Linked DNA regions of Homo sapiens: region 1 is linked to region 2. Evidence: fine-mapped expression QTL. A gene starts in region 2. The other region holds a variant in brackets. All regions are shown on one strand. Distances are from middle to middle.

Region 1 (4,396 bases), 310 kb after region 2:
AGGAAGGCAGGAAGGCAGGAAGGAAGGAAGGAAGGAAGGAAGGAAGGAAAGAAAGAAAAGAAACCAGCCTGTCAGGATAAAACTGTCAACAGGTTAGCTACAGAGGGACTGTACCTCAACACAATAAAGGTTATATATGACAAACCCATTGCTAACATCATTCTCAATGCTAAAAAGTTGACAGCTTTTCCTCTAAGATCTGGGACAAGACAAGGATGCCCACTTTCACCACTTCTTTTCAACACAGTACTGGAAGTCCCAGCCAGTGAAATCAGGCAAGAGAAAAAAAAAAAAGACATCCTAACAGGAAAGGAAAGAGTAGAATTGTCTCTATTTGCTGACAACATGATCTTATATATAGAAAATCTAAAGCCTCCACCAAAAAACTGTTAGAACTGATAAATTCAGTAAAGTTGCAGAATACAAAAGAACCATACAAAGATCATTAGTGTTTCTATGTACTAATAACAAACTATCTGAAAAGGAAATTAAGAAAACAATCCCATTTACAATAACAAAATAATTTAAATGCTTAGGTGTAAATTTAACCAAGGAGGTAAAATACCTGTATACTGAAAACTATAAAACACTGATGAGATAAATTGAAAGTCAGGTGCAGTGGTAAGCACCTGTAGTCTCAGCTACTTGGGAAGCTGAGGCAGGAGGATCACTTGAGACCAGGAGTTCAAGTACAGTGTAGGCAACATAGTGAGATTCCTGTTTCTAAAAAATAAAAAATTGAAGACTACACAAATAAATGAAAAGATATCTCACGTTGATGGGTGTGAAAAATTAAGATTGTGAATATGTCCATAGTATCCAAGGTGATCTAAGGGTGCAATGCAATCCCTATCAAAAATCCAATGTCTTTTTTTTTTTTTTTTGAGATGGAATCTCGCTCTGTTGCCCAGGCTGGAGTGCAGTGGCACAATCTCAGCCCACTACAACCTCCGCCTCCTGGGTTCCAGCGATTTTCCTGCCTCAGCCTCCCAAGTAGCTGGGATTACAGGCACGCACCACCACGCCCGACTAATTTTTGTTTTTTTTGGTAGAGACAGGGTTTCACCATATTGGCCAGGCTGGTCTCCAACTCCTGACCTCGTGGTCTGCCTACCTCGGCCTCCCAAAGTGCTGGGATTACAGGCGTGAGCCACTGCGCCCAGCCCCAGTGTCATTTTTTACAAAATGGAAAAAAATCCTTAAGTTTGTATGGAACCACAAAAGACCCCAAATAGCCAAAACAATCTTGAGCAAAAAGAACAAGGCTGGGCCAGGTGCAGTGGCTCATGCCTGTAATCCCAGCACTTTGGGAGGCCAAGGCAGGCAGATCACGAGGTCAGGAGTTCAAGACCAGCCTGGCCAACATGGTGAAACCCTGTCTCTACTAAAAATACAAAAATTAGCCAGGTGTGGTGGTGCATGCCTGTAGTCTCAGATACTTGGGAGGCTGAGGCAGGAGAATCACTTGAACCTGGGAGGCAAAGGTTGCAGGGAGGCAAAGGTTGCAGTGAGCCAAGATTGCGCCACTGCACTCCAGCCTGGGCGACAGAGTGAGACTCCATCTCAAAAAAAATAAATTAATTAATTAAAAAAAAAGAACAAGGCTGGAGGCATCACACTTTCTGATTTCGAAACATGTAAAGCAATGCAATCAAAACAGCATTGTACTGGCATACAACAGACACACTGACCAGTAGGACAGGCTAGAAAACCCAGAAATAACCCTTGCATTTACAGTCAACTGATTTTTGACAAGCATGCCAAGAATACACAATGGGGAAAGAACATCTCTTCAATAAATGGTATTAGAAAAACTGCACATCCACACACAGAAGAAAGAAATTAGACCTTTATCTTACACCATACACAAAAATCAACTCAAAATGGGCAAAAGACTTAACTATAAAGCTGAAACTGAAAAGCTACTAGAAGAAAACGTAGGGGGAAAGCTTCATGACAATTTTCTGGGCAAGGATTTCTTGGATAGGATCCCAAGAGCACAAGAAACAAAAAGAAAAATAGGCAAATGAGATGGCATCAAAGTAAAAAACTTCTGCATAGCAAAGGAAACAATTAACAAAAGGAAGAGACAACCCATAGAATGGGAGAAATATTTGCAAACCATACATCTGATAAGGGGTTAATTTATAAAATATGTAAGGAACTCAATTCAAGAGCAAGAAAAAAAATAAATAACCCAATTTTTAAATGGGCAAAGCGCCTGAACAGATATTTCTCAAAAAAAAAAAAAAAAAAAGACATGTGAGTGACCAATAGGTACATGAAAAAAGGTCAGTATCACTAATCATTAGGCAAATGCAAATTAAAGCCACAATGAACTATCCCCCATACCTGTTAGAATGGCTTTTATCAAAGAGATAAGATATCAAGTGTTAGAGAGGATTCAGAGAAAAATGGAACTCTTATATACTGTTGATGGGAATGTAAATTAGTACAGCTGTTATGAAAAACAGTATGGAGTTTTCTCCAAGTATTACAAATAGAAATACTATAGGACTCGGTAATCTCCTTTCTGGGTATATATTAATAAGAAGCTGAAATTACACTTTGGGAGGC[T/C]GAGGTGGCCAGATCACCTGAGGTCAGGTGCTCGAGACCAGCCTGGCCAATACGGCGAAACCCTGTCTCTACTAAATATACAAAAAAATTAGCCTGGTGTGGTGGTGGGTGCCTGTAAGCCCAGCTACTCGGGAGGCTGAGGGAAAAGAATCACTTGAACCCAGGAGTCAGAGGTTGCAGTGAGCTGAGATTGCTCCACTGCACTCCAAGCTGGGTGACAGAGCAGGACTCCGTCTCAAAAAAAGAAACTGAAATCAGTATGTTGAAGGGGTATCTCCACTCTCACATTCATTGTAGCATTATTCACAATGGCTAAGGTAGGAGAACGATCTAAGTTTCCATCAACAGATAAAGAGAAATATGGTGTACATATTCAATGGACTACTATTCAGCCTTTAAAATGGGGGAAATATTGTCATTTGCAACAACATGGATTAATCTGGAAGACATTGTGGTAAGTGAAAAAGCCAGGCACAGAAAGACAAATACCTCACGATTTCCTTATAAGTGAAATGTAAATATGTGAATTCATAGAAGTAGACAGTAGAATAATGGTTACCAGATGCTGAGGAAGAGGGGAGGGAGGAAATGAACAGTTGCTGATGAAAGAGTACCAAGACCCAGATTACATAAGAGGAAAGGATTTTGAGATCTATTGCACAGAAGGCTGACTATAATCAATAACAATGTATTATATAATATATTTCATAATAAGTACATTTCAAATGTCTCACCTTAAAAAATGATAGGCAAGAAAGGTGATTGATATGTTAATTAGCTTAATTTATTAATGCCACATTGTATACCTATATTAAAACTTCACATTTTACATCATAAATGTATACAATTATGGTTTGTCAATCTAACATAGTATTAATAATTTAAATTTTTTAATGTCAGGTCTATCTAATTCTGAAGCCCATGTTTTTTCCACCATACCATCATTTCTGTATTTAATAAAATGTTTGTTTCATTTTCAAATCATTAAATCATAGAATGTGTTCCTGATTCTTCCCCTTCCCTGTCCTCCTTTCCCCATTCCCTTACAGGCTTCCCCTGAGAGCACTCCTTAGTAAATCACATGCACATGAATCCCCACCTCAGATTCTGCTTCTGGAGAACGTGGCCTGAAATTACAAAAGTGATCTCAATTTCAACATGGGCACAAAGTTTAAGTGAAGCTTAAATTGAAGTAATGATCATTTGAAAGTTATGTTCTGGACCAGGGATTCCCAATCCTCCCTGTGACTGAAATCACATGGTACAGTTTTTAAAATGCCATTTCCCAGGTCCTGTCCTAGATCTCCTTAACCAAAATTCCAGAAGTCTGACTTAGGAGTCTCCTCTTTTATTTAAGTTATAATATTTCTGATGATGGAAGTTTTGGAACCCATTGGTTTAGACAACTCAGTTGTATTGGATGGTTTAGACATACCCGTATATGAACTTGTGGGTGGGATATGCAAAATGAAATTTTGAGGTTCCTGCCAATATTACAAGTCTATGGTTCAGTTAACAATTTATCACAAATCAATATCTCTTAATTGAAAAAGTGATCTTGATTTTAAACCAGGCATAGCATGATCATTTATTACAAATGTAATTTAATGTGACTTTCTGAAATTCTGACATGAAAATTTTTGAATACGGTACTTGTTTAATTGATTACATTTTATAAAATGGTAACAATTCTTTTTATTACTAAGGTAAACATGTTACTATATTAGTCAGAATAGACTAGGTTACACTCTTACAACAGTTGGAGTAGACTAGGTTACACTGTTGCAACAAATGATACCAAAATCTCAGTGATTTAACA
Region 2 (4,396 bases):
CCTGATTGTATAGGCAAATCCTGGCAAAAATCCAACAGCACCGATCTTGGAATCAAAAGAACCAAATTCAATGAGAGCAGTAATGTTTTTGTCTGTTTTGTTCACTAATTTATCACAGCACCTAAAACGGTGCCTGGCAGACATTCAAAACACATTTGCTGAATGAACGACTGAAGTCTTGGCTCTATCACTTAGCAGCTATTTGACTTGTAGCAAGTGATTCCAGTTTTCTGAGCCTCTGTTCTCATTTCTAAAATCAGAATAATCATTTCTCCCCACCTCAGAGGATTATAGTGAGGATCAAAAATGGGGAAGTATTTTGCAAACTGCAAAGCAGTATATATAGGTGAGGTCTTCACATTACTGAAAAAGTGAACAAGAGCAATTATTATTAACAACGACAATGATCTCTCTACCTTTCCCTACTAAATTCAACCACCAAATCATTCTCTCCCTCTCTATAGGCCATGGAACTGGGACAAGGCTAATCTTCCCTTCAGCATGAGAGAGTGAACTTTAAGCACTTGAAGCCTTCTGTAAATGAGTGGCAGTAATTAAGACATAATAGTTACTCCTACCAACTTTTCTTTGAGCCTCTCTGAGAAAAAGAATGAGGCGCTGTTTCCATGTGAAGATTCAACACCCTTTGGTAAAATCCAGTCTGCCTGAGAACTATTTTTTTTCTGTTAAAATTCAAGAATAACCAATAAGAACACCTTGACATTTCCCCAGACATCTTGTCCCTCACTTAAACCTACACAAGATCGTGCTGAAAGAAGGGAAAGGGAAAGCATGAGGAACACTCTCGGGACTGGAAAAACGTTTTTAGAGATCAGGTAATCCAATCATCCCAAACTGAGAATCTACCGCCTAACTGATTCCAGCTGAAGACAGCTTTAGTGTTCGTTCTCATCTGTATATGGGGATAATATCTTCTTAAGGATGCTTCAATTCTGGAATAAAATAATGCATATGAAAGCATCTGACATGGGTTATGCACTCACTAAAACTGGCTGAACCTGGAAATTCTGCATTTATTCAATAAATATTAAGTGAACGTCTACAATATACTAGTCAGTACTCTAGGCACTAGGAAAGGGCCATAAGCAAAAAGCACAAAAATCTTGTTTTCTTGGAGACAACATCTACCTCCTGTAACTTCTCCGACTGGCCCGCCTGGCTTCTTTGGACCTCCGTCTGGCTTTTATATAACACCTCCTCCACGGAATATTGTCCTTTGAGATTCTGCAGATCGCTGTGGTGTACCTCCCCTCTCCACGCCCCTTTCCTCCATCCTAAACAAGCAGCCTTAATTATTTCAAGGAGTAAGCAAGGATGCGGAAACAGGAGCGAAAACTGGACTGGGTGGGGTGAAGGCGGGTGCTAAGACGCCAGGGCTGAAAAAGAAATCAACAGAACCGCTCCGACTCCGGGCCAACGTCAAGACGGGCGGGTCCGAATCAGGTGTGTCACCTGACACCTCTCCCGGGAAGGGCCATCGTCCCCTCCCCAGGCCCACAGAGGTCCCCGCCGGGCTCCGGGTACCGGCCCCAGGGGGCGCCCTGGCCAGGGATGGAGGCTGGAGGGGCCGGCTCGGGCCCTCACCCCTCAGTCCTCGCCTTTTCTTCCCAGTCGCCTCAGAGACAATTTCCAGCATCGTTCGTGGTGTTTCCAGGCTCCCGCTTCCCAGACCTAGGCCCCGCCGCTCCCGAAACCCCCTCATCGAGCGGCCTCTCACCCACACCATCCTTTCCTCCACAGCTGCAGCCGCTCTCCCGGCCCCCAGGACAGCCACCGCCCGGCCGCACTCACCTGCGAGCCCAGCCCCGGCCCCTCCATCTCCCCAGGAGCCCACAGCGGCTGAGGCTACTAGGCAAGTAGCGACTGCCGCCAGCCCGCCAGCCCGCCTTGGGTCGCCTCTTCTCCCACTTCCTGCTGGCGCCCTCACCTCCGCCGCTGCGGTCCCCGCTCGTGCCCTGAGCCGTCAATCGGTCCCGGAGAACCAATCCCAGCCCTCCATCGGCTAGGGGCGGGACTTTCTCACCTCCTGGGAAGCCCGCTGTGAACAGCTCGCCAGAGGCTCCACCCCCGGCCCGCCCGTGCCGGTCGCTCCCCCAGCCCCAGCCCAGGACCGAGCGCCCCTCCCTGCCCCAGGTGCCACGGGCCCCAGATGTGCGTCCAGGGTCAGGATCAGACTGTTATTCCAACGTCAACCACCATCTATTGAGAGCAAATCTGGACTTGGCTACTTAATTGCTAAATGACCTTGTGAAAGTCTCTTATTTTACCTCAATTTTCTCATCTGTGAAATGAGGAAAATAAGGGTACCTACTTCATGGAATTATCAGGAGGATTAAATGAGAAAACGCATGTAAAGCCCCTCAGCCCGTGCGTTACATATAAAAAGGAATCAATAGATGTTAGCTATTTAAATGTTTTCCACTCCATTTGCGTGATCTTGGGCAAGTCACCTCTACCGCCTGAGGTTCTGTTTCCTCAAATGAAACAAAAAATGAGTTCTACGGCGCAGGCTAGAGGGGGAGTGGGCGAGAGCCTCCCACTTGAAGTGCACCTCCCCCCTGACCTCCACGACCCTTTGTGGAGGGCACTGGAGGAGCTGGCATTTAAGCCCTGTCCAGCTTGAAGGTCTATGAAGCAAGCATTAGGGATGGCTCCTTCCCTTGGGGCGTTCCAGTGGGGCAGTGGGGCTCTCCTACTTCAGCCCCGAGTAAACACTGGGGTTTTTCTAGCCCAGCACTTAACACAGTTCTTTGTAATGGTTCCTTAGATGTGTCTGTTGCCAAGTGGAACCAGATTAAGACCTTTAGAAGCTAATTTGAAAACGATCTGAAAACATTATGACTTCCTTATTTTATAAAAATAATACTAAATCATAAAATAAATAAATAGAAATCCAACAAAGTGCTGGGTTTTCCATGGAAAATATTGCTATGATACAATAAAATCGTAGATGTATTACTATTGCTTTAGTGTCTGTGTCCTTTGGGCACGTCAGCCCTGGCTTGCCCCCAAAAGCCCAAACCCTTTGAGGATAGGAACCATGTCAGATCCATCTCTGAACTCCCAGTGTCTAACACAGCACTGGGACATGGAAAATGCTCAGCACAATTTTAATGAATGATGGATGGATGGATGTACAGGCGTGTCATTAATACACGGACAAATGGAGTGACAAGTAGAAGTGCAAGCAACTCCCACCGAAAGCCAGAGGAAAAAGCAATTAATTCCGACAAGTTAGGATGAGGCATTGGGTGAGGATTCATACAGGAAGGAATGTTTGGGTTTGGTCATTTTGCTTAACTAATAAGAGCTTTCTGGCCGGGCGTGGTGGCTCACACCTGTAATCCCAGCACTTTGGGAGGCCGAGGCAGGTGGATCACGAGGTCAGGAGATCGAGACCATCCTGGCTAACACGGTGAAACCCCGTTTCTACTAAAAATACAAAAAAAAAAAAAAAATAGCCGGGCGTGGTTGTGGGCGCCTGTAGTCCCAGCTACTAGGGAGGCTGAGACAGGAGAATGGCGTGAACCCGGGAGGCGGAGCTTGCAGTGAGCCGAGATCGCGCCACTACACTCCAGCCTGGGTGACAGAGCGAGACTCTGTTTCAAAAAAAAAAAAAAAAAAAAAAGGTTTATTTATTCATCACTTACTATGTGTTGGCACTGTGCTAGTGTTTTCATACATTATGTCTCATCCACGAGATGGGTGGTATTTTCCTCATCTCCTGGGAGGAGAAACTGAGGTTCAGGCTGATTCCATAAACCCCAAGTCACTCAGCAAGTAAGTAGTAAAGAGAGTATTCAAACCCAGGTTTCTTACTGCAAGCATTTTGGCTGAAGTAGTTTGTTTCTTTCATTTTCAAAGTCTGATTTAGAAGATGCTGAACTTGAGGGAGGCTTAAAATCTGTTTCAATGCGTCTGCACTAATATCCTAACACATTGGAAGATTTTGGAGCAACTAAATCCGAACACCCCACTCCTTAGTCAGGCTCCTGGTTTCCCTCTGCTCATGTTTTATGCTTCCAGTGAGCTATTTCAGATTAAGCATATCCATGTCTAATGGCTATATGAAACCAAACGCAGTGATAGCCTCTAACTGCCCCCAATACCTCTCAACTTTGAAAATACCTTTGCTGGGATAGACTGGATTAAGAAAATGTGGCACATATACACCATGGAATACTATGCAGCCATAAAAAATATGAGTTCATGTCCTTTGTAAGGACATGGATGAAGCTGGAAACCATCATTCTCAGCAAACTATCGCAAGGACAAAAAACCAAACATCGCATGTTCTCACTCATAGGTGGGAATTGAACAATGAGAACACTTGGACACAGGAAGGGGGACATCATACACTGGGGCCTGTTGTGGG

Evidence for each region. PIP is the estimated chance that this variant, and not a neighbour inherited with it, causes the effect. A credible set is the group of variants that fine-mapping cannot tell apart.
Region 1: its variant is the best candidate, but not a certain one, in a credible set for the expression of ZDHHC13 in monocytes after Pam3CSK4 (Quach 2016, PIP 0.60).

What each region holds. Positions count from the first base shown.
Region 1 is chr11:18,804,876-18,809,271 of GRCh38, reverse strand. No RefSeq gene overlaps it. Among named protein-coding and RNA genes, the nearest start is that of PTPN5, 15 kb to the right of the region's middle. The variant T/C (reference allele first, on the strand shown) is at 2,578.
Region 2 is chr11:19,114,693-19,119,088 of GRCh38, reverse strand. It overlaps ZDHHC13 (zDHHC palmitoyltransferase 13), which reads right to left and starts at 1,921. Exons shown (of 17, transcript NM_019028.3): 1 at 1,813-1,921. The coding sequence starts at 1,839. RefSeq lists silencers at 1,502-1,731, 1,822-1,901, 1,952-2,191.